Regions from separate parts of the Homo sapiens genome. Here all the other regions are linked to region 1. The links come from fine-mapping of genetic effects on gene expression. A gene starts in region 1. Each other region holds a variant in brackets. All regions are shown on one strand. Distances are between the middles of the regions. Region 1 holds the start of C1GALT1 (core 1 synthase, glycoprotein-N-acetylgalactosamine 3-beta-galactosyltransferase 1). Region 2 overlaps C1GALT1 (core 1 synthase, glycoprotein-N-acetylgalactosamine 3-beta-galactosyltransferase 1). Region 3 overlaps C1GALT1 (core 1 synthase, glycoprotein-N-acetylgalactosamine 3-beta-galactosyltransferase 1). Region 4 holds the start of LINC03016 (long intergenic non-protein coding RNA 3016).

Evidence for each region.
Region 2: its variant is fine-mapped to the expression of C1GALT1 in whole blood (GTEx, PIP above 0.99).
Region 3: its variant is fine-mapped to the expression of C1GALT1 in skeletal muscle (GTEx, PIP 0.94).
Region 4: its variant is fine-mapped to the expression of C1GALT1 in whole blood (TOPMed, PIP above 0.99).

The regions. Positions count from the first base shown.
Region 1 is chr7:7,178,942-7,186,637 of GRCh38, forward strand. C1GALT1 (core 1 synthase, glycoprotein-N-acetylgalactosamine 3-beta-galactosyltransferase 1) reads left to right here and starts at 3,603. Exons shown (of 4, transcript NM_020156.5): 1 at 3,603-3,879. RefSeq lists silencers at 3,343-3,952, 4,173-4,392.
Region 2 is chr7:7,226,267-7,233,962 of GRCh38, forward strand. All of the region lies in intron 1 of C1GALT1 (core 1 synthase, glycoprotein-N-acetylgalactosamine 3-beta-galactosyltransferase 1), which reads left to right. Among named protein-coding and RNA genes, the nearest start is that of LINC03016, 25 kb to the right of the region's middle. The variant A/T (reference allele first, on the strand shown) is at 3,526.
Region 3 is chr7:7,241,099-7,248,794 of GRCh38, forward strand. C1GALT1 (core 1 synthase, glycoprotein-N-acetylgalactosamine 3-beta-galactosyltransferase 1) reads left to right here. Exons shown (of 4, transcript NM_020156.5): 4 at 2,426-7,518. The coding sequence ends at 2,629. Among named protein-coding and RNA genes, the nearest start is that of LINC03016, 10 kb to the right of the region's middle. The variant G/A (reference allele first, on the strand shown) is at 3,817.
Region 4 is chr7:7,252,427-7,260,122 of GRCh38, forward strand. It overlaps LINC03016 (long intergenic non-protein coding RNA 3016), which reads left to right and starts at 2,728. Exons shown (of 4, transcript NR_108073.1): 1 at 2,728-2,752; 2 at 7,126-7,170. The variant C/G (reference allele first, on the strand shown) is at 3,601.

The DNA.
Region 1 (7,696 bases):
TGTCTCAGGGTCTCTTTCTAGGTTACAGTCAAGATGTTGACCATGATGCATGCAATCATTTGAAGGCCTGAAGGGTTGGAGGATCTGCTTCCAAGCTCACTCACATGGCTCTTGTCAGAAGGCCTCAATACCTCACCGGTTGTTGGCTAGAAGCCTTAATTACTCACCATGTGAGCCTCCTTATAAGTTGCCTGAGTGACCTTATGACTCTGACATAACAGCTACCTGGCCCCAACAAGTAATCCTAGAGAAAGAATAAAAAGTCTGGCATGTTTTATAGTCTCCCCTCAGAAGTCACATTACATCATTTCCACTACATTCTATTCATGAGAACAAGTCATTTAATACAGTCCAAACTCAAGGTGAGGGGAATGAAGTTTGACCCTTTGAAGGAAGAAGTATCAAATAATTTGTGAACATATTTTAATACTACCATATGAGTTAATAAAATTTAATACACGAAATTTAACTTAATTATTATAAACTGGTGTTAATATATTTGTAAAATGTAGGTATTTAAAGGGAAACTAAGTCTATTAAAGAAGACAATGTTTTAATGTTGTTGCTAGCTTGTTTGCATTTTCTGTCACCATTTTCACCTCATTCTGTCTATTAAAAAATTCTATATATAGTGCTAAATAAATGATGACTTGGCCTATCTTATTATGTCAACTAAGAATTGCATTTGATACTTACAACAGACAATAACAAAATCTTATATAGAAGGGATATAATCTTCCTCACCTAACAACAAATCCAGAAGTGGATAGTCCAGACCTGGTAAGTTGGCCCTCCAAAGCAACCATGGACCTAGGCACCTCTGGTGTCCTACACTATTAATAGTGTCTGTGTGGCTTTTGTTATTATGGGTGAAATATGGCTGTTCTACCTCCAGTATCATGTCCCTGTTTCAGGTTCAAAAAAAAAAAAAAAAAAGGGATGGGTGCATATCAAATGGCTAAAGCGATATTTCTTCCATAAAGCTTTCCTTGAGTCTCCTCTACAGAAATTCACTTTTATTTAATTGATGGTCACATGGCCAGCCATGACTTATGAAAGTCTAGGGGCATGAATATTTTTAACTGGCCACATTGTCACCCTGAAGAAATCAGAGTTCTACTAGTAAAGAAGAAAGGATTTTGGTTTAGACAACTAGTAATGTCTACCGACCTACTCCAACGAGTTTTGACATGCATTATTAAACACTAGACACAAGAGAAACAACAATACTGAGGTTTATGTGTGTTTCAAGTATGTTTCAAATGGGAGAATCTGGTCAGTTTTGAGTCCCACATATAAAGTATATTTTTCAAAGTAACCACAATTTTTATTCTCTAATTGAAAATGTCGAAGAATTGGCTGACATTAATGTCACTTCTAGGAATGTGTTCAAGGAGATAATTGCACAATTGTGCAAAAGCCTATGGATAAGAATGTTCATCAGAGACTTTTTTTATGGTAGTAAAAACTTGGAAACATAAATGTCAATCAATAGAATACTGGTTGGATAAATGATGGTATATCCATTTAACAGACAGTATGCAACTTTTAAAAATGATGTTATTCATGACTGTTGTTCACTGTGCAGATAATACGATCCAATTTATGAAATATTGTATTTATATGTCTATATGTGCTTTTATTCTTAGAGAGATGCCTAGAAGAATGTAACACAAAATTTAAGAAATGGTTATCTCTATATTATGGTATTTGGACAGATTTTAACTTCTTTGCATTTTTGTTTAAATTTTTTAAATTTGTTTGCATAAGCATGTATTGTTTTTATAAAACAATAGTTATTAGCTGGGTGCCACAGCCTGTGCCTGTAATCCCAACTACTGGGGAGGCTAAGGCGGGAAGATTGCTTCAGCCTTCAGCCCAGTTATTCGAGGCTGTTGTGTGCCAAGATCACACCTGTGAATAGCCACTGCATTCCAGCCTGGGCAACATAGAAAGACCATATCTCTTCAAAAAAAAAAAAAAGCTATTTTCAAAGAAAGGCAGGGTGGGGGCAGGGCTGATTTGGTCCAGTATTGTTTCTAGCAAGTAATTTTCCAGGATAAGGCTGTGGCTGACCTTATTTTAGGAAAGGGTTCTAATCTTTGCTCAATGGAAAAAAGTGTTATTCTTTATTAATTATAACTTTTAATAAAATTAAAACGAGATAAGGAGTTGTGAGTTTTGGTTTCTATTTGGAACACTGACCCCTGAAAGAGTTCTCCTTCCATGTTTCACAATGGATGGCAAGACATTGCGGAAAGGTGGAAGGATGTTGCGGAAAGGTGGAAGGATATTGCGGAAAGGTGGAAGGATATTGCGGAAAGGTGGAGGGGGAGGAGGCTGAGCAACAACTGTATACAAGTTGGGGAGGAGTAGAGAATGGACGTAATCATGTAAGGCAGAGAAGTCTGGACCCATGAGCCAAGGAAAGAGCAATAACCTGGACATCAGGATAGCTGCACTTCTCTTCTAACATGGACCTATCAGTTTATCTTTCTGGCCTTAGTTTTGTCATCTGAAAAATGAGACATCTGTATTAGAATCACTACATGTGCTTTATGTTTCACAATTCTTTTGGATATATTGATGCAATGTCCTGAGAAACTACACTACAGCTGAACCTAAGCAAATTAAAGGAAAAATAACAATAACTAATGTATATTATTATTTGTCTCAGGCATTCTAAGTAACTTGCCAATAGGTGGAGGGACCAAGATGCCAGCCCGGGCAGTCTGATTTCAGAGCCCATACTCTTTAACAACCATGCTGTAGAGTACTAAAGAACCGCTTGGATAGGGCATTTAAAGGAAGCAGGGTAGCTTTCCTATTCTGGAACGTGGTCTTGTAGATAATGGTTAACGCCAGTAAAGACTAAACCTTACCCTCACCTCATGACTATTGTGGGGTTGCCTCAACAGGTGGCAGCCTCCTCCCCCTATTCCAAAGACAACTTCCTTATTCAGAGCCCAGCGAAAGGGGAGATAGGTTTTGTTACGCCCCTAAGAAGCTCTTCCGGCCATTGCCCCACAGAACCGAAGTGCTGACAGAACCAAAGACGAAATGTGCCTATAGAAAGCTTTCTGGTATCATTATCTCGGTTCTCAGCTCTTCCTGGTTCTCACATGATGACCCAGCACCCGTATGCATACTTCATCTTATTACTTCCTTTTATTAAGCCCAGAGAGATACTGAGTAAAGAGAGCACGGGGAGAGAACAGAAAAACAAATGAACGGGTTAAGAGCAGGCTACAGGCCACAAGAGTCCTGCAGGGTTAGAGCCTGTACCTCAGACAAAGGTCCTTCAAGCATCCCCTTTCTCGCTCCCTATTGTTACCCTGCTTTCGTCCCGCTCAAGGTCTTGAAGCTAGTGCATAACCTTACAGCAGGATCAGAAATGCGGAGAGTAGCAGACACAAGCCGCAAGGGGGATACAACAAAATCTACTGCTCGTGCAAGATCCGACTTCCCAGACCCCTTCGCATTAGGGCGGAGCGTGCACCCGGCAGCCAATCCCCGCTTCCTCACGTCGCCGTATCCCCGCCCACCGCCCCTCCCGCTCCGCCCTTCCCTGGGGCTGGTGCGGCGGCGGAGACGTCAGCGCCAGGAGACTTCGGGTGGCGGCTGCGCCATAGGCGGGCCACGGCCTGGACGCGCTGCGGGGAGGGGCGGAGCGAGCGGGCGGGAGCGCGCGCTGGGCCCGCCTTGGCCGCCGCCGCTGTGCTGCCGCTGCCGGGGAATAATCTGGGCGGCAGCGGGCGGCCTCGGCTAGCGGCCACGAGCCACTTCTGCGGCTGCCCAGAGAAGCAAAGGTCACCAGTCCCAAGTCGTCCCCCTCTCCGCCCCCCAGGAGGGGCGAGAGGGAGCCGCAGCTGATGTCAGGTATGGCCGGCGGAGGCGCCCTCAGGCTACGGGTCCAAGGTCTCGTCTCCCCTCGCCCTCCCCCCTCTCCGGGTTGGTGGGGAAGCGTGGAGGATGGAACCAAACCCCGGGCGCGGCGGAACAGGTGTCTCGGGGTCAAAGCCGGGCTGGGGTCGTCCGGGCTCCTGAGGAAGGCGCGAGGACTTCCCGCTCCCGGAGCCTTAGCGATCTGCCACAGCGTTCGGCTGCGTACCCGGCCTCAATTTTGTGGACATGTACCCTCCTCTTCGTCGTGGGTCCTTCCCTTGTGCCCGCTCGCGCCCCTCTTCTGCTCGCGCGCTGCCTGGCGGCGCGGCGGGGCGCGCAGTGCGCCCGGACCGGACCACTTAGCGGTCCTGCCCCGCCGGGCCCTCCCAGTCCCTCCTCCCGGGCCCTCCCCGCCCCGCCGCAGACCTGTGGGTCCCGCCGGACTGGGCGCCCAGGTGTTGGGCACCTTCGCCGGGGAGCCACTCGGCTGCCGCGCCGCCTGAGCGCCCAGCGAGCGGGCTCCTTCCAGAGGTGCCTGGAGCTTGCTTGGGTCTAGCTTGGATCATCAGGTTTGTCTGTAGCTGATTTATTTCTTTAAGTTTCCCTGCCGCAGAGTGAAGCAGATACGTGTGTGTTGGGGCATTCGGGGCATGGAGGAGGAAGAAAGGCATTAAATTTTTTTTTTTTGCTTCTGCACCCCATTTTTCCCCAACAAATTGTGATGGAATTAGTAGGTGTTGACAAGTTGTCCATTTGCTTTGAATTTGGGTAAGTCGTACACTCTTAAAAGATGACCATAATTTAGCGCTGTGGATTTATTCTTTCCTGGTCCTTACCGTCTCCCCACCCCCCACCACCCCGCATTTAAAGCAAACAACAGTATCAGCAACAAAAAACCCACACATCCTGGAAAAATTCTCAAGATTTCTAACCTAGTTCTCTATATCCATTGTACATACTACTGTATTTCCTTTTAACGCTTTTTTAAGATAGAAAACTATTGTGCTAACCATGGATTGATTTCATTATGAATTTAAAAGTTATAAATTTAGAACCATAATGAATCAATGAATAATTGGCCGATGTGTAAGGGAGAGAAATATGTTAACTTACTAAAAGTTGGGCATAGAACATAGCTCTGCCAGGAAAAAGTGCGCATAATTTCAAGTTGCTTCATTCTGGTGTGAGTTTGGGAAGTTGGAATCCGAGTTTTTAGAAGGTATTTAGATGACAGCTTTTCACCCTCTTAGGTAAATGGCAGTTGAGCTTAATGCCCATGATGCTGTATGTTCTAAATATTGTATATAGTACACTATACTTTCTACCAGTCTTTATATATAGATGTACAGTTTAAGTGAATATAAAGTTTCAAGTTAGCAAACAGTTAACTCTTCACCTTATGGTAAGTGAAACAATGACTTAGTAAGGAAAGTATGACTCATTTAAAATTCTTCATAAAGAGAATAATTTTTCAGTATTAGTGGAGAGCTACTAAATGCCTCTCAAATTTGCCTGGAATGTGTATTTTTTTGTATCTTCCTACTTAGGATTAAGCATTTTAGAAATATTTTGTGTTTCCTATTTAAAGTTTTTCATAATTATGCTTTTTAAGACTAGACTACGTTGAGTAAATTCAATATCCAGTTATTCTTAAAATTGTATCACAAATTTATTTCAGGGTACACATAATGAGTTCTTGTTTACCTAATAGAAATATGAAAAAGTATGTCACTAGGCACATGCTACTATTTGTGTATTGATTTGTGCTAAAATTAAAATTGCATTATGCAGTTTAACATTATAAGCCATGGTAATTTAGAGTCTTTGTGTGGTAAAATCATTGATTGGAATTTTTGTGACAGTGCAGCTATAAATAAACCTTAAGTAGAAAATGGAAAGCTTGATGCTGAAATTAAATTCAGATAGGCTTAAAAGTTTAAGCTTCCCAATACAACCATCTTTTCTTTTAGAAGATTTCTTAAGATTTGATTAAAGACGCTGATGTACAAACTATAGCAAGGCTGAAAGAAAGGTATGACAAAAATCTTTTTACTTCAAATTCAGTGGGATTAAGTCATTCTTTTAAAAGAAGAAAGGTGGGGAGCGGGAAGGAGACTTGTTCCATAAAATGAGAAGTTAGCCTTTTATCTTAAAATCTGGTTAGAGAGGAACTCCAATGTGTACTTAAATTATTTTGCAGCTAATTCAAATGTCCAAGGGGAATATATATGCCAAAATCTGTAATATGTGAGAATAGGAAGAGGGAGAAAAAAAATATATAAAGAAACTGGTGTTTGTGATTTAGGGAAGCACATAAGAAGGTGGGGGAAACTGAAAGGAAAGTCTAAATAAATTATCTAGCACCTGTAGTATGTGCTGCCTTGCACATTGAAGGGGCGTGTTGGGGGCAACGAGAGGCAATATTAGGGAGATTCTGGAATGGGAAACCTGTATATTAAAGCACATTTAAACGGCTAGATGTTGGATAATAGGCAGAATTTGAAATTAAATACAGCTTGGCATAGTTATTTGCATTCTTGGTCATTGTATTTTCTAGGGCTGCGGTAACAAAATACGACAAACTGGGTGATTTAAAACAACAGATTTATTGTCTCAGTTCTGGAGGCAAGATGTCTGAAATCAAGATGTAGGTATGGCCATGCTCTCTCAAGGTTCGAGGGGAGAATCTGTTCCATGCCTCTTAGCTTGTTGTGTTACTGCCAATCCTTAGCATTTTTTGGCTTGCAGCTATGTCACTCCAGTCTGTGACTCTGTTATCACAACATAATCCCTGTGTGGCTCTGTCTTCAGATGGTGTGCTCCACTTCTTGCAAGGATACTAGTCGTATTGGATTAAGATCCACCCTAATCACCTCATCTTAACTTGATTACATCTGCAAAGACCCTATTTTGAAATAAGGTCACGTGCAGAGGTACTGGAATTAGGACTTCAACCTATCTTTTGTGGGGACACAGTTTAACCTGTAACAGTTGCACGGTTTATCTTTTACATCGTTCAGTAAATGTTTAGCATTATAGACTGAATCAGAGGCTATAGTGGAAACAGGATGGGACACTTACATTTATTTACATATATCAGTGATGTCTTAATCTGTTTTCTGTTGCCTCTAGCAGAATATCTGAAACTGGATAATCTATAAAGAAAAGAAATTTATTCCTTACAGTTAGGAAGGCTGAAAAGTCCTGGTTCAGGGGGCCACATCTGGTGAGGGCATTTGCTGGTAGGGACTCTGCAGAGTCCTGAGGATAGCACAGGGCACCACATGGTGAGGGGGCCGAGCATGCTAGCCCAGAACTCTTTCTTTCTTTCTTTCTTTCTTGTAAAGCTACCAGTTCCTTTCCCATGATAACCCATTCATGAGGGCTGAACCCTTAGTACCCAGTCACCATTTAAAGACTCCAGCTCTCAATACTGCCACAGTGGTGATTAAGGTTCAACATGAGTTTTGGAGGAGACAAACATTCAGACCACAGCAAGTGCTTACTATGTGCCAGGTCCTGGAGATAAAACAGTGGATAGGCAAAAATCTCTGTCCTCATGGAGCTTACATTCTGAAACACGGGTTCTAAAAATGTGGTCCCTGGATCTGCAGCATCATCATCACCTGGGAAGTTGTTAGAAATTGAAATTTTCAGGCTCCATCCCAGAACTCTTTATTTAACTAGCCTTCCAAATGATTCTGATGGAGACTCAGGTTTCAGAACCACTGATCAAGATGGAAAAGAGACAGTAAACAAGATGAATAAGTAAAATAATATTTGATATTAATAGGTGCTGTGGGTAAGCATA
Region 2 (7,696 bases), 47 kb after region 1:
TTTGAATACATAAATGCAGCAAATGAATGCCATAATCCAGAGCAAAATTAGAAGTACCTGATTGTCACCTTGGCAAAATGTGGTATAAAGTGTTAAAATTTAAAAAAAAAAATAACTAGAATTTCAGGGCTTTATTGTGAATTACACTCACTGACTTCCCGAAAGCCTGAAAGGAAGAAGACGTGCGCTCATGGTAAAGGGCATTAAAATCTTGGTGAAAGAATATTCTTGAACTGGTGGAGTGGCTGAAAACCAAGCATAAGAGAAGAGGTTAAAGGCTGTATCCTCAGAATTCTCTGGCACCCATGTAAGAAGACCATGGAGTAATATTTACAAAGTTCTTAGGGAGAAGAAAGTTTGTGCAATAGCAGACATTCTGAAGCCTGCAAGAATTTCAGATGTGGCACCGATTAGCGCCATTAAAAAAAACTGCTTGCTGAAACCCAGCTAACAAAAACATGATATTAATGAAAAACTCAAATTTAGAGGAGTTGTGATTAAAAAGGACTCTTGTTGAGCATGGAATCTAGTTTAATGTAGATCCAGGATTAAGCAGTCATGGAATTACAGTTCATAATTCATATAATGTAAACTATGTACATTTTTACCAAATAAAAGCAGTTAACAAAAATTGGTTGTGGCAGAGGGAGTGTGTGTGTATGTATATGTGTATATATATATTTGTACATGTGTGTATCCATGCTGATTTCCACATTTCACAGCAAGAAATCAATAGATAGTGCCTAAAATTGAGCTTATTTAATGAGCCCTCCAACTCCTTTCTGTTTTTTTGTAAACTTTTCTTAATTTTTAGAGGGATCCTTTAGAGGATGGGGGTCATATTACAGATGTCTAGGTGACATTCAGATTTTTTAGATTCCTTTATTTCCTATAAATTCAAATAAATCTAATATGTTAATTCTTTAAAAACGAGATGACTAATATAATTCCCATTCTGTAAAACTGTAGGGTTATGGTTTGAATATTTGTCCCCTCTAAAACTCATGTTGAAATTTAATTCCCAGTTTGGCAATATTAACAAGGCCTTTAAGGAAGTGATTGGTTTATGAGACAGACCTCTGCCCTCATGAATGGTTTAATCCATTAATGGGTTAATAACTTAATGGGTTATCATGGGAAGGGAACTGTTTTGGCTTTATAAAGAAAGGGAAGGCCGGGCGCGGTGGCTCACGCCTGTAATCCCAGCACTTTGGGAGGCCGAGGCGGGCGGATCACGAGGTCGGGAGATCGAGACCATCCCGGCTAAAACGGTGAAACCCCGTCTCTACTAAAAACACAAAAAATTAGCCGGGCGTAGTGGCGGGCGCCTGTAGTCCCAGCTACTTGGGAGGCTGAGGCAGGAGAATGGCGTGAACCCGGGAGGCGGAGCTTGCAGTGAGCCGAGATCCCGCCACTGCACTCCAGCCTGGGCAACAGAGCGAGACTCCGTCTCAAAAAAAAAAAAAAAAGGGAAGAGGAACAAACCTAAGCTAACACGTTAGCATGCGTATCCCTCATGCCATGTGATGCTCTGTGCCACCTCAAGACTCTTCAGAGGAGAGTCCTCAACAGCAAGAAGGCTCTTACCAGATGTGCCCCCTTTGGCCTTGGACTTTCTAGCCTCCGTAACTGTAAGAAATAAATGCTTTCTCTTTATAAATTACCCAGTTTCAGTTGTTCTGTTATAAATACCAGAAAATGGACTAAGACATAATAGCAAAGTGGTTAAGAGTCTGAATTCCTGATTCAGATTGCTAGTGTGACTCTCTGTGTCTGAATTCATCTGTAAATGGGAATACTAGTCCGTACTTTATAGTTTGCAGATGCTCTTAGTACAGGGTTCAAATGTTAACTGTAATTACCTCTCCTATTTTTGTTATTGCTAGAGAGAAACCTGTAATGATAATCACAAAATATTAATAATTGTTGTTTCTGGGTAGTAGGACTTGTGATGATTTCTTCCTTCTAAATCCTTTTTTAACAATGAATAGCATAAAGCTGTCCCTTTAAAAATAAAATTAAAATATAAATTTTAGTTGTCCCGGGAGTTCTTTTGTATCTGAAACCTCAGTTGTCAAGCTTGGAAATCTGTACTTTTAAAATATCCTCAAGCGATTCTGATTACACATCAGGTTTGGAAGCACTTGGCATAAAGAACTTCCCCCACCCAATTCAAAGAAATAGTATTTAAGCCCTCATAATGTGCAGTGTGGTTAAGCTGTGTCTTTTTCCAGTCTAGTCTACCTCAACACTCTTGTGGACATGATTTTTGCCAAAAATCTGAGTGAGCTTTGGGATGCATTCTACCCCCATGAGATGGCTATTTTATCCCAGGAGCAGGAAAAAAAAAAATGGGAGTTTACAGTTATTTAGTCATAAGGCCGGAGTCCTTTAAATTGGAAGGGAATGTGGTAAACACAACACAAGAGGAGCCAACACATTCTGAGTGTGCTGATACTCTGGGGGAGAAGAGTAAGAGAGTATGACAGGCATCAGACAGCATCACAAAACATTTTAAAGTTAAAAACAATTACGTAACACCAAGAAGTCAGTTTTCCTTACATTCACTCCAGGATAGATGCCTTGCTTAAAAAGTGCCTCTTCAGCTAAGAAAAACTGTGTCCATAAGTACTTCAGTAGCTTTCCACAAACAGTAACTGTTTTTGTGTTATAGAAGTAGGCTTGTTCTGAAGCTCAGCATGTCCTTGGAATATGATTGAGTAGCATGTTAGTATTCATAGTTGATGGAGCTGGGTTAGCACTTCTTTAACTTCAGATATCCATATGATGATAGAAATAGGAATTTTCTCTGGTCCTGCAGTCCTTCCTCTTCTCAGTCACAGTGCTTTCTGCCTAAGTGGTACTGAATGGCATTGTGACTACTGCTTTCTTCTCCAGTGCCAGGAGCGGTAGACTCTGCAGCAGTAAAATACTGTCTTTGTTCTTTTCTGAGATGGTGAAGTGGCTGTGTATGGTATTAAGGCAAAATCACAGCTAGGACAAAAAGCAATGGAAAACCAAGATCAGTGTGCTGTAAGGCAAAGTGTTAGTGAGAGAATCAGAGGATGTAGAGAGTGACAACTCAGTATCTGCTAATGCTCCAGGTTCACTGCTTCAATCGTATTCTGCTTGTCTTCCTCCATAAGAAATTAAGAGTTAAAACATCTTTCATTTACTTCTCTTGGCTTCATGTTTTCAATTCATGGTACTTTCATATCACATACCTCTATTGTAGATTGTCTTGATCATGTATACTGCTAAAGGAAGGACTTGTATAATATCGAACAGATACTTGACTAATCAGTTCTCTCTGGCTGTTTGAATGAAATTTCAAACCAAGATTTCTGGTTAGAGCAAGGTCTAATGAACTGGTCCTCAGACAATCGAGATATTTAGAATTTCAGAACAATCACTTAAGACAGGAGGGATATGTTTTATTGTATCTTTTGGATATAAAGATTACACTAACGGCCAACCTGAATGAGGGAAAGGGGGCAGTAGGGAGGCAGAATTTGAGACCCCCTC[A/T]TCAGAGAAAACAGCAGAAAGACATGGTAAACTTGTTTCTGGTTTTCCTGTGGCAAATTTGATTGGGTGTAGAGAGAAGGATCGTTGAGTGGGGCTATGTACTCATCATCCATGAAGGCCTACCTTTCTGAACTTGAAGGTACAGTCAGGATAGAGCAAAAGGTGTAAACATGTATCTGATAGTTTCAGATGGTTAATTTACATCTCAAGATACTGGGCAGCTTTGCTTATACTGTGCTGTTCCTTCACCTCTCCTCTTCCTCTTAGGGTTTTTCTTCCCAAACTGGAATTACAATTCAGGAGAGAGCCTGAAATATAAGATATATAATGCAGCATAAGCATGGTGTGTTGTCATGGCATGTCAATTTTACTTGTAGATTTTGGGATATTTTTATATCAAATATGAATATATTAAGTATGTACTTAATGGGATAAAGACACATGAATGGGTTTTTGTATACACTTTTTACTGAAATAAATGTTAATACAGAAAAGTATGTAAAATCATAAATGTAGAGCTTAATGAATGTCACAGAGAACAAGCCATGTAACTACTAGTTTTTTTTGTGGTATCAATAAGCTTTCCTTTAATTACTGTTTGTATGGTATATTTTTCTATTATTTTGCTTTCAACTTTATAAATCTATTTAATATGTGTCTCTTGTAAGCTGCATGTAGATGAGTTTATTTTTCTCGAGTCTGGCTGGCAATCTTTATTTTTTAATTGTAGTTTTTAGTCTATTTGCTTTTAATATAATCATTGATATGTTTGGTTCTAAATCAACCACCTTACTATTTATTTTCTATTTGTCTCATCTATTCTATATTCCCTTTTTTTTTTTTTTTTTAACATTGCCTTGATTTGGGGTATTTTCCCATTTCATTTTTTTGTATTTGAATTTAATTATATTGTTTTACTGTTTGTTTGTTTAAAGATTATATTAGACATCCTTGGTCTTTTAAAGGCTATTATTAATCAGTTTTTTTTTTTTAAACAACTCCTGGACAGTGAAATGACTTTAGAGCTCTTAAACTCTATGGATCCTCCTTATACTTTTTGATGCCAGTTTTGTAATTTGTTTTAATGGTAATAATACTAATATCTTGTGAGACTTTCAAAAAATGTTTTATTATAGCCAATATTTATTTGGATTTACTTACATACATACCCTTTTTATGACTCTCCCTTCCTTCCTACATCTCTGAATTTTTATCTGAAATTCTTTTCCTTCTGCCTGAAGAATTAGAAATAGAACTGTTAGTGATAAATTCACTTAGGTTTTGTTTTTCTGAACATGTTTTTAAGGCTCATTCTTGAAGGACATTTTTGCTGGATACAGAATGCTAGGTTGGTAGTTCTGTTCTTTTAGCACTTTAAAAATAGTTCACTGCAGTCTTGATTCTGTTGTTGCTGCTAAAAAGTCAGCTGTCAATCTTATTACACCTTTGAAGTTTTTTTTTCTGTCCTTGGTTTTCAGTAGTTTGACTGATGTACTTAGGTAACATTTTCTTTTTCTTTGTAATCTTCATTGGGTTTTGTAGATTTTTAATGTGAGGGTTGGTACTGTGTCAGTTTCGGAAAATATTCAGTCATTATTTCTTTAAATACCACTTCTCCTGAGTTATGTCTCTTCCCTCAAAGGTTCCAGTTAACACTTACATTAGACCCTTTCACTTTATTCTGTTTTTTTGCTCAATTCTTTTTCAATCCATTTGTTTTTCCATACTTCATTCTGCGTATTTTCTTCTGACCTAGCTTTTTAGGTTATTAATTTTTTTCTTCAGCTGTGACTATTCTATGCCTAATTTCTTAATCTTGCCATTTAATTTCTTGACTTTATTAAGAATAGTTATTTCTAAGCTAAAAATATGAAAATCTTATTTGAGTCTTTTGGCTCTGTTTCTATTGTCTACTTTTTTGTGTTTAGCCGTAATTTTCATCTTGATGCCTGGTTGTTTTGGACATTGTGTATCAAAATTTTGTCCATGTTGTATACCAAAAAAAAAAAAGTCGTCATGATAATTTGAGGTTCTTCATGATTTTATATTTCTCCAGGAGAATATTTTTACAGTTAGGCTAGGGCGGATCATCCAGTCAGTGGCTGAGATGACTCTAACGTAGACTTCAGCCGTTGTAAAGATTGGTCTATTTTTGTTTTGTTCTTATTCTCAGATTGTAGCCTTTCAGAGTCCTTGATAAGAGCATAGGTGTTTTTCAGGACCTCTTCTCCTAAGCAGACTTTGGACATTAATTTTTGCTTAGCTTTATTGCCCTTGCTGTTTTCTCTTTCAGAATCAGTCATTGTCTTGAGGATAGAGCAGTGCCAGATGTCTGGTCTGCCTCTTTCCTTCCTTCTTCCAGATTTTGGCCCTACTAATTCTCACTGCCTTGATATCTTACCAGTGTCTTCAAACACATATTTATATTTTTTTACATTTTGTTCAGTTTTTCTGATTGCACTTGGTTGTACTAAAAGAACCTAGTCAGCCATTCCAGAAATACATGAAGTTGTTTTGTTTTTATTATTGTAGTGGTGATTGTTGGTTTGTACTTTTGCTTTCACAAACTATTTCAAAGCAATTTTGATTTTTAGGGTTATATTTCCCAGACCTCTACTTTCACTGCCCATTGCCCTCTGCTGTTAGTGGTGATTAGGTGAAGAGTTTGAGAAATGTAATGGAAAGGGCGTGGGTTTTTTTTTTTTGTTTTTTTTTTTTTGAGACAGAGTCTTGCTCTGTCACCCAGGCTGTAATACAGTGGCATGATCTCGGTCCTGCAGTCCTGCCTCCCAGGTTCTAGTGATTCTTTTGCCTCAGTCTCCCAGGTAGCTGGGATTACAGGCACGTACCACAACGCCTGGCTAATTTTTGTATTTTTAGTAGAGATGGGGTTTCACCATGTTGGCCAGGCTGGTCTTGAACTCCTGACCTCAGGTGATCCACCCGCCTTGGCCTCCCAAAGTGCTAGGATTACAGGCGTGAGCCACCACGCCCAGCCGGGCATGGGCTTTTTAAGCACACAGACCTACATTCAAACTGTGGCTCCTTCTGATTGTGTCAGCCTATATGAATTAATTACCTGTTTAAAATTACCTTTTTAAAATTTCTCTTTCCTCATCTGCAGACGGGTTTAGTGAGAATGAAAAAGGACATTGAAATTAAATTTTATTTAAAATGAAATAATGTATGGACAGCTTCTGGTATATAATAAATGCTTAGTAAACTTATTTTTTTAATTATCTTGAGGAATAGGAAACTAGAGTTAAGACCAATCTTTTAAGGAATTTAATAGAAGTTTATAACTTCACCATATAGTAATTGTTAACAAAAGCTTAAAAAGGGCGTTTATGTCAATGTTTGGTTGTGGGGCAGTTCAACAGGCATCTGTGTCCCAGGTACCCTACTTAATCTCGTTAATATTATAGATTCCATCCAAAATCTAGATCTTGCAGTATAGAGCAGAGGTCAGCAAACTTTTTCTTTTTTTTTTCTGAGATAGTTTCACTCTTTTGCCCAGGCTGGAGTTGAGTGGTGCAGTCTTGGCACACTGCAACCTCCGCCTTCTGAGTTCAAGTGATTCTCCCACCTTATTCTTACCAATTCTTCCCAAGTATTCACCTTATTCTTCCCAAGTAGCTGTGACTGCAGGCATATGCCACCATGCCCAGCTAATTTTTTACCATGTTGTCCAGGCTGGTCTCAAGCTCCTGACTTCAAGTGATCCACCCGCCTTGGCCTCCCAGAGTGCTGGGATTACAGGCATGAGCCACTGTGCCTAGCCAGCAAACTTTTTCTATAAAGGGCTAGGTACGGTTTTGTGAGACATATTGCCTCTATTGTAGCTATTCACTCTGCTGTTTTAGGGCAAAAGTAGCCGCAGTCAGTATATAAATGAATGGGCATGGGTGTGTTCAAATAAAACTCTATTTACAAAAACAGGTAGCAGGCCAGGTTTGGTCCATGGGTCCTCAAACTGTGCTGACCCTAGTCCTCCACAAGCTACAAGTGTTTTTTTACGTTTATAAAGGATTGTTTAAGAAGAAGATGCAACAGAAACCACATGAGACCCAAAAAGCCAAAAATATTTTATTTCTAGTTCTTTACAGAAAGGGTTTGCTAACTTTTGGGTTGGAGAAGGGGTGGTGGTTGCTACCAGAGAAAAAGAAGTAGA
Region 3 (7,696 bases), 62 kb after region 1:
TTACATATATATCTCTCTACATGAAAAATTGACTTTTCTGTAGGTCAGAAATGGTCAAATATGATCTACTTTATTCAGTTTTATTTACATTATTCTATCTGAAACATATTAGTACATAAGTGAGGTAGAGAGCTCCTGATTTTTTTAAATTGTTAACTAATTATTCTACTACCATTTTTTAACTCATTACTGATTTAAAATGTCCCCCTTATCATACACTGTAACCTTACTTATAGTAGGATCTAAATCTGGGATTTCATTTCTATGCCATTGTTCTCATTTGATTTTGGCCCAGCACCATATTGTTTTGAACCTTGTAGCTTTACAGCAGTTTTAAGTTACTATTCTAAGGGCAAATTAACTCTTCTTTTTTTCTAAGTGTTTTGGCAACTCATTTCTTTATCTTTGCATACAAACTCATTAATTTAGGGACAATAACATCTTTGCCCAGGATTTTTTGTAAGTCACCTTTTAGGTCCTTTGGTCAAGTTTTATAAACTATTTCCATAGGTATGCAATATTTTTGTTACTGTTCTACTTGGGCTTTTAAAGACTTAACTTTTTACTGATATATATGAAAACTTATTTGTTTGATTTTCTTTTTAAGCATCTTTAAAATCTGGCTTTGTAACTGAATTCTCTATTTCTGATGATTCTTCACTTGAGATTCTTGAGTTTTTTTGGGTAACCATAATTGTCTGCTAGCTCTTGTTTTCTAATAATTATAGCTTTTTACTTTTATTGTCTTTTATTGCATAAATGCTTAACAGAATCCTGGCCATCCAGTAAAATATAAATAAATAAGAGCAATATAATTAATGCAGTAAATCTTATCAAAAATATTATTTTACAGAATATAAAAATTGCTTCCAGAGGTCAGCAATTTATAACTATTACTGGTCTAGTCCTTAAGTTTAATATGCACTGGACAGTATAGTAGCCACTAAGTATGTGTGGTTATTGAGCACTTGAAATGTGGCTAGTCCAAATTGAGATATGCTGTAAATAAAATACACACCTAATTTCAAGAAAGGTTTCATTAATCATCGCAAAACTATTGCATGTTAAAACAGTATGATGAACTTTTTCAGTTAAATAAAATGAAATTTCACTTTTTTTTTTTTTTTTTTACATTTTTTATGTGGCTACTATATGGCTTACATATCTGTTGGACAGAGCTAGTTTAGATAATCACAAGTTGACTTATCTGGTTATTTTTCCTATTTGCTTTTATTCTGATATTTCCTAAAGGTGCAAGAGTAGGTTGTCTAAGAATCTACATATCCAGTGTGTGTTTCAAAGGAAAGTTTAGAGATAACAGCAGAGAAAACGCAGTGGACAGTTTGATAATTTTTACACACTGTAAGCTACATACTTCCAAACATAAATTATTAGATTTATTAAATATTCAGTCAATATGAATCTTCTCTTGGAACTTGCCAGACTATCTCCCTCATTCTTTACAAAGATGTCAGATGGAGCCTGAAGTTTTGTTGGAGTCACCTGGATGACACCAACATTCTCCAGATACCAATTCTGACTCTAGGTTGACTGCTTAATTCATCTCTTTTTCTGTCTTCTTAATTTTCTTGCTTTCTTGTTCGTTGTATTGTTGTTGTTTTATTTTAAACTTTGTTCTCATACCAACCCTATTAGGAATTTATGAGAATTACATAACTGGACAAAGGTTTAAATCTGACCTACCTTAGGGCCACCTGATATGATTTTTCAGTCAATAATAGCTAACATTTATTGGGCATTTATTTTAAGCAAAGGGTAATTTACACACATTGTCTCCTTTAAATAACCACCTTTTACAAATGTGGAAATTAAAGCTTATAGAGATTAAATAACTTACTCAAGGTCGTATACTAGCCCACAAAATTTGGGTTCAAACCCAAGTCTAGGTTGAGAGCTTTGTCTCAAATACTGTACTGTTTGGGTTGATACATATATAGATGAAGTGTATTGGGTTGTAGACACCTAATGGGCAAGGCTTTGTAGTCATTGAATGCCCTAGAGGTATGTTTCCGAGTATGAGCCACACAAAAAATTACAGTGAGAAAATGAGGAAGAGAAAGCAGATGTTGGAGAAGGAGATTTCTCCTTGTATAGCTGCTCCTTTGATTTGAAGAAATCTCAGTAATTTTATCCGCTAAAGAGTGTGAGAGAATATTGTTTCATTTAAAAATACTTTCCACAGTTTCACTTGGTTTCACCAATTTCAATTGGTTTTAAATCATTAGGATGTCTAAGTAAACTATTGATTTCTTCCACAGGTCTAGTACATTAGGTTCCTCTGCTTTACCTTGCCATCTTTAATGTTTGTATTCTTTTAAAATTAGCTGGTCCTTTATAAGTATGTAAATATTGTAGCTAGCAATGTGCTGTTTATTAACAATACCTGTTTCCACTACTTTTTTAGGGTCCTGGTTGCTGCTCTGATCTTGCAGTTTCTTTTCACTATGTTGATTCTACAACCATGTATGAGTTAGAATACCTCGTTTATCATCTTCGTCCATATGGTTATTTATACAGATATCAACCTACCTTACCTGAACGTATACTAAAGGAAATTAGTCAAGCAAACAAAAATGAAGATACAAAAGTGAAGTTAGGAAATCCTTGAAAGAAAATCATGAATGAACAAAGGTAATATGTCTAGCACTGCACTGAAAAAGGACTTCTGCATTTCTGACATAGAACACTGGAATCCCAGTGAGGAATTCTAAGTGAACATTCCTTATAGAAACCTTTCACATGAATGACTATAAACTGAAGCTTTAAATGAGCTGTGAAGTGTGTTAAAATGTGTTTTGATACAGTAATATATAAATATGTCTATATATATGAGGAACTTGTGTTTTTTAAATGGTGGCCAGGTAGAGGAACTAGAAAAGAGATTTTGTTGCCTGTTTTCTGACCATCTGTGTTATTGTCACTGAGAAACTAAAATAGTAAATTTACTAAAACTACACTGCACCATGTTAGTAATAAACAGATCTGCCTTAAAGAAAAGAAAATTTTAGAAAGAAATATTGTTGCTCAGTGTTGTTAATATAGCTCAAGAATTGAGTTTATATTTGCAGTATGCTATAAATGATACCCCCCTACCACACCCACACACACAGTTTTTGTCTAATGAAAATGTTGCTGTGATTATTTATAATTGGTAGTATTTCTTCCAGAAGAAGCTAAAATAAGACTGGCACTTACCCTGAAGTGCATTAATAAAACCACACTTTAAAATTATCATGGGCCTTGACTATATTATATACTTGATTCTAATTAGTCATCTTTTACGCAATCTCTGTTGTCTCTTTTCTAAATGTGTTTAGCCACTCTTGAATACCATTCTCCACTATTAACATTAATTTACTCAAACCGTTCATAGCATTCTGTAAACATGTATTTTACATATTTGTTCCCAAATTTGCCCATTGTTCATTATGGGTAACTAATAATAAATTTAATGCTGTTTCAGGATGCTTTTCTTATAACAGTGCCACTCTCAGGAATTACTAAGTGACATTTTAAATTGATATTTTAAACTCTTTCCAACTACATAGTTATGGTTTATTTCATTCTCATCCTGTTGGGATGAGAACTTGTTTGTGCCTTTCATAACTTGTTTAAAGCAGAGTTTTAAAATTAGTTTATAGGATCTGAGGTGGCTATTAGTTACAGTGGCAAGATTATTTAGAAAGCAAGATTTTGATGAGAATTAAAAACAATAGAAAATGTAGAGTGCTTAAACAAAAATGTTATATTTTGAAAGAGTAGATACTTAATTTATAAATAACAGTCTGAAGGTTG[G/A]TGCTATTTTGGGATAATTGTTTTGCTAATGGATAATTCTAACAATGCAGAATACCTAGTCAAGACTGTCATCAAAAACATTCACAAATGTTTCATTCTATTTTTAGTGACTCTGTTTAAAGAGTTTCTGAAAGGAAAGAAATTTTTTATTTTTATTATCTTTAGCAGTACTGAGTGTCATAGCAGAATATTTTACAGACTTTCTATGAGATTATTTTTATGGTACAAAGTATTTACATTTCCCTCATGTTTATCATTATGCCAATTTTACATGGCAGTCATGCCACTGACTCTGCTATTTAGCTAAGTAATTTCTTTTTTCGGAGACTGTCTCACTCTGTCTCCCAGGCTGGACTGCAGTGGTGCGATTCTCCTGCCTCAGCCTCCCGAGTAGCGGGGATTACAGGCACGCGCTGCCACGCCCCGCCAGTTTTCATATTTTTAGTAGAGACAGGGTTTTGCCGTGTTGGCCAGGCTGGTCTTGAACTCCTGACCTCAGGTGATCCACCCACCTTGGCATCCCAAAGTGCTGGGATTACGAGCGTGAGTCACAGCACCCGGCTAAGTAATTTCTATTTATTGTGCCAAAACATGTCAAAATCATGACCTCTTTGAATGGTATATTTGAGAGGATGTTCATTTCATTGGTTAACCATGGACTACTCTGTCCACGTAGTGAAAACATGCACCAGTTTTTACCTATTATCATGGTAGTATCATCTGCCAAAATTTCAAGGCATTCATTTTATTCTTTGAACAACTCTTCACCATGGTGTGGACATGAATTTTCATATGTGTTACTTGACTAGAAGTATAAATGGTTTACTATAGATATCCAAAAACCTTGAGATTTGCTCATAGGAAATGAATATTGTGATGAATCCTGGGCTCTAGAGTCAGACTTGCTTGGGTTTAAATTCTTGCTCTAACACTTACTGTTTTTGTAACCTTGAGCAATTTTAATCTCTCTGTGTCTCAATTTCCTCATCTTTTAATTAGGGATGATAATACTACCTACCTCACAGGATTTTTATGAGGATTAAATAAATGTAAGGTTTTTAGAACATTGATAGGGAGCAATAAATAGAAGATTGTATTATTATTCTGTTACCTTGGAGTGTAAGTACTGCATTTAAGTGAATGAAAAATTTGCTTTGACCAGATACTGAAGGAAATAAGTAATAGCTAGTATTTATCCAATGCCAACTGTATGCTAGGTACTGTGCTTAGATAATCTGTGTATAATAGTGTTAATCCTCAAAATTTGGGTGTTATACCCCTATTATAGATAAGGAAACTGAGGCTCAGAGACAAAGTAACTTTGTCACTGTCACAAAGCTAGTAAGTAACAGAGGTAGGATTTATATTCAAAACCCTGTGTGTTCATTGGAACCGTATCAGGCTTGGGGCTATTCATGTAGCATTATTTCCATTTTTATGTATATGATATATGACGTCTGATGCATTGGCCAGTAATAGTCAAATTAACCCAGCCAAATTGTCACAGTGATTCTTAAACTGTGGTTCTCACACTTGCCCAGGATGTTGTTAAATGCAGATCTGAAGACCCCAATCTCAGAAATTCAAATTTAAGCATGGGGCCCAAGAGTATGCATTCTTACCAGATACCTTGGGCAGTGACTGTCAAAAGTCTGGTCCCAACAAACAGCATTAACGTCACCTGGGAACTTGTTGGAAATGCAGCCTCTCTCGGGGCCTCATCTCAGATCAGATCTACTAAATCAGATACTCTAGGGGCAGGGGCAGGGGCAGGGGCTAGCAGTTGTGTTTAAGCAAACTCTGCAGGTGTCTTTCTTATCCTAGTTTGAGAACCAATACCCAACAACCTACGTGATTTTGGTGCAAGTAGTGTTTGAAACACACTGAAGATTACTGCCCAATTACTAAGACATTTTTCAAAAAGCATGTTTTAAATCAGTGTAGTCCAGGATCACACTATATTAAATATAAAGATAACTTAAAGGATCATTGGATCATTCATTTTGGCCAAATTTTTAGCTTCTCCAAAGTGACTAACATCAGGGCCTACAATAAAATCTGTAATTCTCCAAGTTTAGTAATTTTATATTGAGGCAGGAAGGGCTCATTAAGTACTAATAAGTACATAATTTATTAAAAACATACATAAGTGTCATCAAAAAGGTCCACAATTGTTAGTAAAAAAAATTAAATTGAAGTAGTAAATGCTGTTTTATAACATACATTTTTCTGCTAATTCATTCTGTTTTGTGTGACCTAATAAAGCAAAAGAAAAATAAAAAAGCAATTCTCCAAGTACTTCATAGAGCACATAAAACCAGATTTCATGATGATGATGTATTCACTATCTTTTAGATTAAGATCTTTGTTATTTGGTAAATGATTTCAGTATGGTTTTAAAACATAAGGCTTTTGATGTCTTATGTTCTCTAATAATGGTATGCTTGTATTTTCTAGTGGGAAGTTCATAGATAAAGCAGATTTTTGTCCCAGTTTGCTTTCAAATATAAATTTCAGAGGGCTTTTTCTTACTGTAATGAGGTATGAAAATAAATCATTGATCAGCTCTTAATATTTTTTGAATACAGAATTGGATTTGAGCAGTAAATTTGCTAACTGGTTATTTTCACAATTTTCTTGAATATTAATTTTTCACTTCTTTGAGACTGTCAAACTATAGTTACTACCAGGTTGATGCACTGTACTTGAAAGAATCCCTTGATTAAATTACATCTAGCATTTTATTTGCCATTTCAATTTTCAGTTCATTAGACTATAATTCTTTGACAGTTTCTGCCTGGTGTTTATTGCCCTTCTTTGTTTGCTTTATTACTAACTTCCATTTTCTAGTTACTCTTAAATGCTGCCTTCACAAGGTTAATTTGGCTGTTAATAGTGATTAGAATTTTTATCACTTAATTGATAATTTTAAGCCTACTAACTAGGGTTCCCTATGAAATTGAAAGTAAAAGTCTAAGAATAATGCCTGCTGGCTCTCGAGATACTTGCCCTACTTAAAAATCTATAATTTAAAATTAATTCTATGTCTACAATTATTAAAGGAAGTAAAGTTATTTGGGTTCTTCCACTCACCCTTTTCTCAAAAACAACAACAAAAAACAAAACTCATTTTATTTTTCTACTTTATAGTAGGCCTGACAGAAACATAGTGAAGCAATCTGGGAGGCAACCTGTGGTAGATTTTATGCTAAATGTTAATGTAACCTCTGTTGATTTTTTAAAAATGTGTTTATATATAAGATTTGAAATAAAAACTTTAATACAGGCTAGAATAAGGAATTTTACAAATTCTCTTTAGAGCAACCAACATTAAAGTTTTAGAGTTGAATTTTGCTCTATTTCAACTCCCTTACCTCTCTAGTTTTCAGTTTATATTAAGTTTTAATAACTTTGCGGGGCCCTGCAAATTAATAATCTACATGAAGTATATTATTAGAGGGAAACTAATCTTACTGCTAAGCAGTGTGTTGTACTACATAGTGAATGTTCGTGTTTTGGAATTTAAAAATTATTTAAGGTAATGGTGTTACGAATGGTTTAAAAATGTCTGGTGACTTGCTTATTTTTAAGTGATCACCATTAAGTCAGAAAAATGTATTTTTAAATGTTTCTTGAAGTGCCTTTTGAACATTTTTAAACAGCGGATTTAAATAATGCATAAAATAAATTGCCATGTTCAAAGTTGTTTCATCTGATTATTTTTAACCAATATAAAAGTTGTGAGATAAATGTTGTCTTTTATGGGTAGTTTGGGGTTATTTTTCCAAAAGTTTAAAATTGTTTTCCCATCAAAGCTATTTAGTTTGAATTGGCTTTCATAAGTTTTACTGCAATATATGTATTATTTACTTTAAAGCAA
Region 4 (7,696 bases), 73 kb after region 1:
GATGACCATTTCAAAGATGAAAATTTTTAAAGGACCCCAAACCCCACCACCCCCCAAAGTAATTCCAATTAATGCATAAATATAAATTGGATAGGAAGCTAAATAGATAGAAATGGTTTTATTAAAGTGAGATCGTGTAACAAATGCTAATTTTAACATTATAATTTCAAAAAAATACAGTTGCTCTTGATGTGGCCAAAATCTGCAAATTGTCCTGGGGGCAGGGAGAGGGGAATGTCATCTTAGCAGCAACAAAATTGAGTGATTTCTTTGGGAGGGGGAGATGGAGAGAGGAAGAACGGACTGGACTTAGGCTTCTCTGTAGCAACATTCAGTGCTAAAGCAGAGTGAAGCAAACTCTACCAGATTCTTGGGGGAGGAAGAAGCCAAGTGATTTCAAATGGAAGGGTAAATTGAAAGAGTGAGGGTGGACACTTCTTGAAAAATCTAGATGATGAAGCCCATCTAAAGAGATAAATGGACAAACATTGAGAACAGGACTGGTGGTGGTTAATTATTTAACTATGTAGCTATAGAATTATTTAAATAAGGCTATGGAAGCATATTGAAATGTTATAAATCTTGATATAGAAAAGATGATTAACAAGTTAGAAAATAGAATATCAAAGACGAGGTAATATATACATGCCCTAATTGGTTTTACTTTTCAGAATAGAAATTTTGTAAAATTGATAATATATCAAGAAATAGGGATGTAATATTCTGAATAGTTATGAAGGTAATCACCAAAACTGTAAGCCTGATAACTATTAAAATGAAAACACAAAATTAAAGATAACACAGGCCATATAAGAGAGCTAAAGGGAGAATTTACAATAGATGACAGAATTAAGACCAAACATAGATATGATGTCAAATAAGGAAAAATATGATTTAACTTATAAATGTATGAATATACAAAAACTGTTGGCAGTACCTTTGGGGAAGGGTACTAGGATTGGAAAGAAATTCAATAATTCACTGTTTTCCTTTTTGAACTTTTAAAAAATCATGTTTATACTGTCACAGTTTAGAGAAGTAAAGTGGGAAAAAAAAGCTGTTGGCCCTGGCTCCCTAGGGTTTTTACAACCAGTGGTGAAGAATGTCCACAGACATTCTTAAGCAGCAGTAGAGGTAAGCAGGTACACACATGAGCTGGAAAGATCTCAAAGCTGATTTGGATTCTTTTATCTTGCCATAAGAAATTACTTTCTTCAATCAAGGGTATAAAGACTGCTGAACTAGTTCATAATGAGGGTAGATGAAGGAGGTATCCATCTTCAAGAGTGGTAAATAGTTGACCCATACAAAGGACCAGCAGCCTCATGTGGACCCGTCTTAGCATCCTTCTCTCCTTCTACTCCAAGGGTGAAGAGTACTCGGAAGTTACTATTTATTCTCAAATCCTTGTGTCAGATTATTTTCATATCTTTCTTAGATCTGTTCTGGCTTAAGTCTTATTCTCTTATTCATGGAAATAGAAGACACTGAGCCCTTTCCCACATAAAAATATAGGACTACTGATTTCTAGAGCTTAAAGATGTTCTAACGCCTCGTTTGAAAGATTCAGAAACAGATCTAGAGATGTTAAAGTTTAGAAAAATGACACAAATAATGCCAGAAGTGGCAACAGAACTCAATTTTCCTGACTCCCAGGTTAGTGGTCTTTGTACTAAATGCAATTTCTTATCTTCCCTGAACAACCTGAGCTATGTACTTTAACAAAATTTTTTGTGGGTACATAGTAGGTGTACGTATTTATAGGGTTCATGAGACACTTTGATACAGCCATGCAACAAGTAATAATCACATCATAGAAAATGGAGTATCCATCCCCTCAAATATTTATCCTTTGTGTTACAAACAATCCAATTATACTCTTTTAGTTATTTTTAAATACACAATTAAATTATTGACTATAGTCACCCTATTGTGCTATCAAATACTAGATCTTATTCATTCTTTCTGTTTTTCTTTGACCCATTGTACTGCTAGATAGAACTCACATATTTGGTCCCTGCCTTTTCCCACCATTTGCAAATAGATTCTAGGAACGATCCTAATAGTTGCCAGGCACTGTTATCAGAGATCAAATCTGTCTTGTTTCCAATTGTGCCTGGGACATAATAGGATTTTTTTTTTTAAATAACAAAGCCATGTGTAGTGCTGCATGCCTGTTGTCCTAGCTACCCAGAAGGCTGAAGCTCAGGAGTTCAAGTCCACCCTGGGCAACAAGACTCCATCTCCACAACAAAAAAGTTTAAAAAGGTTACTATACGATTACTATACATTGTATGTATCAAAATATTACTCTCTCCCCCATAAATATGTACATTATATATCAATTAAAAGGAAGTAAATGGTGAGCATCCTTTCACTATGAAGAAAAGTTCTCCATATGCCCCCTACTTTCTTCTGTTTCATTTTTATGGAGACCTCTAAACAAAATGCTTTTCTCATAGATATGGAGGGACTCCTAAACAGGTTTTCTGCTTGAGAAAATCTTGATTTGAACTCCACGTATCATACACCATCAGGCAAAAAACCTCGCATTTACGTTGGAGAATACAGTCCAGAAAAAGAACAAAACCTCAAGTGTGGGCAGAAGATTGTGTGTATTTGCTATTAGGGAGGAGAGCTCAGGTTCCTTTTCTCTACAGTGACCATTAGACATTCCAAAGCACTGTCACTTGGTGTAGCTCAGTGCTCTTGGTTACTGAAGCAACAAGTGATCTCTGATGACAAAACAAAGGTAGGGTCGTGCCTAACACTGGTAAGGAGAAAACTGTGTCGAGTTAGTTAATAATTAATTTACATGTCAAGTTACAAGTTTTCTATCCTAAAATCCAAAAAAAGCAACAGCTCTTTTTTTTCCTCCAGTCATTAAATCACCCATTCAACAAACTTTCACCAGGCTCATGGTTTGTCAGCTATAGAAGAGAAAGGAGGGCGAAACCTGTGGTTAAGGCTTGCCTGAAGGATCTCACATTTGGGTTGGGGGCTGACATGCCAGTGAACAAATAGCCTCCTCAGGACTATGATAGAGGTATTTACAAAGAACTATAAGAGGACTGTATATTAAGTGTTTAGGGATCTGAGAAGTTTCAAAGAAATTGTGGCATTTGAACTGGATTTAAAGAATAAGGCTCAGGTACAACTTCATGTGAAAGAGTCGATATATTCACAAATTTGCCAAAGCCCAGTTAACTTCAATTCTTCGAGAGTTCCAGTTTTTTCCCAGGTGCAGTCAGTGTACCATTTTTTTCTGAGACCCACAGCCATTTTCTTTCATTGGCATGTTTTTAGGTTTATTTTTCAATAACTCCAGTACCCCTGAAATTTCCTTCCTTAGATCTTGAATAAATATATTCAAGTTGGGCATTACTGCATGGTTTGAGGATAATGTCTTTCCTGTTAAAAATATTTTTAAGTTTTTATACAAAGGTAATGTATGTGCTTGGTAAAAGAGAATGAATATAAAATGAAAAGCTATAATCTGCTACAGCCCCACCCAGCAGTCCCTTTGTCCAGCCATAAACAGAAAATAACAGAACTGTACTCATTTCCAAACTAAACACATCATTCTGCTCCTTGCCTTTT[C/G]TGCTTACTGTTTAATAACTTAGAGATAATTCTTTTTAATAGTTAACTAGATCTCTGTATGGATGTGCCACAATTTTTAAGCCATTCCTCTATTGATAATTGAGTTGGATACTTTTATTATAATTATTGCTGCACTGAACATCCTTGAAATGATTGTGTGGGTACAGCCATAGGATAAGTTCCTAGCAAGTAATTGCTGAGATAAAGAATGTATGCATTTAAATATTCATAGATACTGCCAAATTGCCTTCTTAAACTGTACTGTACTACCTTATACTACTACTCAACATTTGCGAGTATATTTTCCTGCCCCTTTTACCAAAGTTTTTGATTATTGAACTTACTAGTTTTATCACTGCATTAATATCTGATAATTGTTGATTTGTACTTAAGGTTTGAGTTTTTTTTATACATTGGTAATTTGCATTTCATCTTCGCCAGTTTTTAATATTGAATTACTAGGGTTTTTAAAAATTTTTATAAACTCTCTGAATATTGGTTTATTTATATGTATTAGAACTGTTATGATTATTTCGTACTTGTTTTTTCCCCACACAAACCAATTAATCTTTTCTTAGGGCTATTGAATTGTGTGTCTTGCTCACACCAAGGTTTATTTATAATATGCTTATGTTTTCCTCTTACTTTCATAGTTTCATTTTTTGTGTTTATATTTTTGATCCCTCCAGAATTTATTTTCTTATATGGAGTGAGGTAGGAAAATGGCTACCCGTTTGTTGTAATACACTTTATTTGACGATCCTTTCTTTCAACATTTATTTTAAATCACCATTACCCCATGATATTTCATTATCGGTTTGTGTATAAACTGTATTCTGGTCTGCTTATCTGCCTATTTCTTGTGCAGTACATTGTTTTAATGATTTCAGATTCATAACACTTAATAACTGACAGAATGAATTACCTACTTAAACATTTCGTACAGACACTGTGGTGGATTCTGCTACATATCATGGCATTATGCCATGAATGCTTTCCAGCATTACTGGCAGAAATAGCCACCCTTAAAATATGCCCCTCGTGATCCTCAGCGGTTCCCAGGGTACAGTGTAATGTGTACCCAGAAATGGGTTGCCCTCTTGCCCATTCCTGGGCTGCCTCCTAGGGACAGTGACTCCAGTTAACTTGCTGCTTCAGTGGGCACTACCATCTTCTGCTGGTGACTTCTGTCATCTTGTTTGACCCTGGGGAAAAGACTTATTTTCCTCTTTGTTGCCCACAGTAGAGACCAGACTTTCCTGACCGTTCCAGAATAATGAAAGAAAGGGTCCAGATAGTACTTTATGAGAGCGGCCAAGCTCCAGTGGAATCCTCTCCACCCTTACCAGGCTACTGCTCTGCCCTCTTTGCTACCTGTTTCCAGGTCACCAAAGGTAGTTCAGCTACCCCACTAGAAACCTTCAGTTATCAGCACTTCTTTAGAATTGGAGCCAAATTGACATCTGCACTAAAAGAAATGAGGAAGGTTTCCACTCACCTAACACTCTGGACACCCTCCTCCCAAAATTCCTGCTGAACCAACCTCTCCCCTGGGAAACTGGCAGTGAAAACATTTAGTCTTTTCAGAGGAAATTACACCTTTACTCAGAGAAACGTGGTCTGGATTTTGGATCTGCAGCCCCAGTAAGAGAATTGCCTAATGATCTGGTATCAGTTAGTACAATCAGGCCCTTCATATCTGTGGGTTCCACATCCATGAATTCAGCCAATCGTGGATCAAAAATATTCAATAAAAAATAATATGACAAAAATATAAACAATACAGTATAACTGTTATTTCCATAGCATTCGTATTAGGTATTATAGAGATGATTTAAAGTATGCAAGAGGATAAGCATAGGTTATATGCAAATACTATACCATTTTATATAAGAGATTTAAACATCCATGGGTTTTGGTATCAGAGGGGGTCCTGGAACCAGTACCCCAAGGATACTGAGGGACGACTGTCTATTTCGCAGTCTGTATTGTTTTTACAAGTGGGGCAGCAACAACCAAACCCAAATGAGGCCGCATCAGGCTCAGCCCTGTTCCTATTTTGTCTCCCTGCACTAAGGGTTTCAAGCATGTCTTAGGGCTGTGGTCAGCTTGTTAACACAAATCAGCCTTGAAACCTAACAGAATGTTACTTTACAATTTCCTGTTACTATGTTCCTTTTTAAAGTAAGCTACTTCCAAATCGATCTTCATCCTTTTCAAAATACCAAATTTCGGAAATGGAAGGGGGAAAGGAATGGGGGAAATACAAAGTGAAATCACCTGTATTTTCTTAGGGACCCTAACTTAGACATGACCAGCTATTTCTGAGATTCTTAAGTAAACTGTTTTTTCTCTCTGAAAGTCTGACAGTCTCTGCCATGTCAAGCTCTTTATTTCATGTCTTATACTTAGACCCACTCAGGCTACTTGGACAAATGCTCAAATAAGTTGACCAAATGAAAAACGTGTTCAGAGGTTGAGTGACTCAGAGTGAGAACAAGTGAAGCAGAACTGAGTGGTGGAACTTAACCTGCGCCTGAAGTTTTGAAACACATCAAGTCTAGTCTTCTGTATTTTAATAATATACAGACTTAGAGGGTGGAAAGAGATAAAGTGTTATGTGCTCATAAAATCAATTTATAAGTGACCTCATAGGGTCAATCACCTCAAGATAATATAAATTCATGATTTAATATATTAATGTAACCTTTGCTATGTATTAATCAGTATAAATTTATAATTCAGTAGTCTACAAATCCTAAACTTAGAGAATATTTTCTGAATTTGCTCTTTGATTACTCCACGTCTCTGCATAGAATTTTCTGACACTCACTCATCAGGATGTGTTTATAAAGGGTTTTCTTTCTTCCTCTTCACATTTAAATGATATAGAATTACCCAAACTTCCTGTTGCTACTGAAACTGAAGCAAGAGAAGCAAGGGAAATTGAAACTGAAAATGTGAACCAGCGACTTTACCCAGAAGCACAGTTGATGGCATCAATGAGATCAATTTTTTAATGAAATTAAAGAAAGTAGAGGTTTCAGCTGACACTGTTTTTCTCCAGACTCTCTACTATGCGGCAGGATGGTAGTTGTTTCCTCTCAACGGAGCTAAAAATTAACTTCATCCTATGGCATGATGTATTAAAATCAGGAGTGTTTGGCCCGGCGTGGTGGCTCACGCGTGTAATCCCAGCACTTTGGGAGGCCGAGGTGGGCGGCTCACGAGGTCAGGATATCACGACCATCCTGGCTAACACGGTGAAACCCCGTCTCTACTAAGAATACAAAAAAAAAAAAAAAAAATTAGCCGGGCGCGGTGGCGGGCGCCTGTAGTCCCAGCTACTCAGGAGGCTGAAGGAGGAGAATGCTGCGAACCTGGGAGGCGGAGCTTGCAGTGAGCCGAGATCGCGCGACTGTGCTCCAACCTGGGCGACAGAGCGAGACTCCGTCTCAAAAAAAAAAATAAATAAAATAAAATCAGGAGTGTTGATGGTAACTTTCTCTTTCCCCTCTCCAACAGGTAATTTCTCTCAAGATCCAACCCAAGCTATTCTATATACACAAGGTCAGCAAACATTTGATTCATTTTGTCAGCTTTAATATAAATCAAAATCACACCCAGGAGGCTGGGGTGTGGTCAAACAGACATCAAATCCCCTATTGCCCTAATAGCCAGTCAGTCACCCCCCTCTTTCATGTGGGAAAGAACACCGGAAGCAATTTGACAAGTAACAATCAGGCTTCTGGAGCCATGGACAATTGCTGTTAACTCTTGACTGTTCTGACAACATTTTAGAGCTATCTTTCAGGAATATTAGCCTCCCCCATTAACAAAACGGGGAAAAGCTCATTCCTCAAGGACCTCACTCTTCATTTAGTTCAACAGTTTGGATGGAGAAGGGAGATGTATCTTGAGGGAACACAAGTACATTGATCCCATTTTCTACCTCACTACATTGCTTGCAGGAAGAGGCCTGCAACTTGGTTCACCCCTTTTTTTTTCTGCTTTAGTATTTTAGTTGGGTCAAAGTAACTAAAGAGTTACTTACTTAAATTGCATATTGCGATCCCCATAATTTCCACTGGGTAAA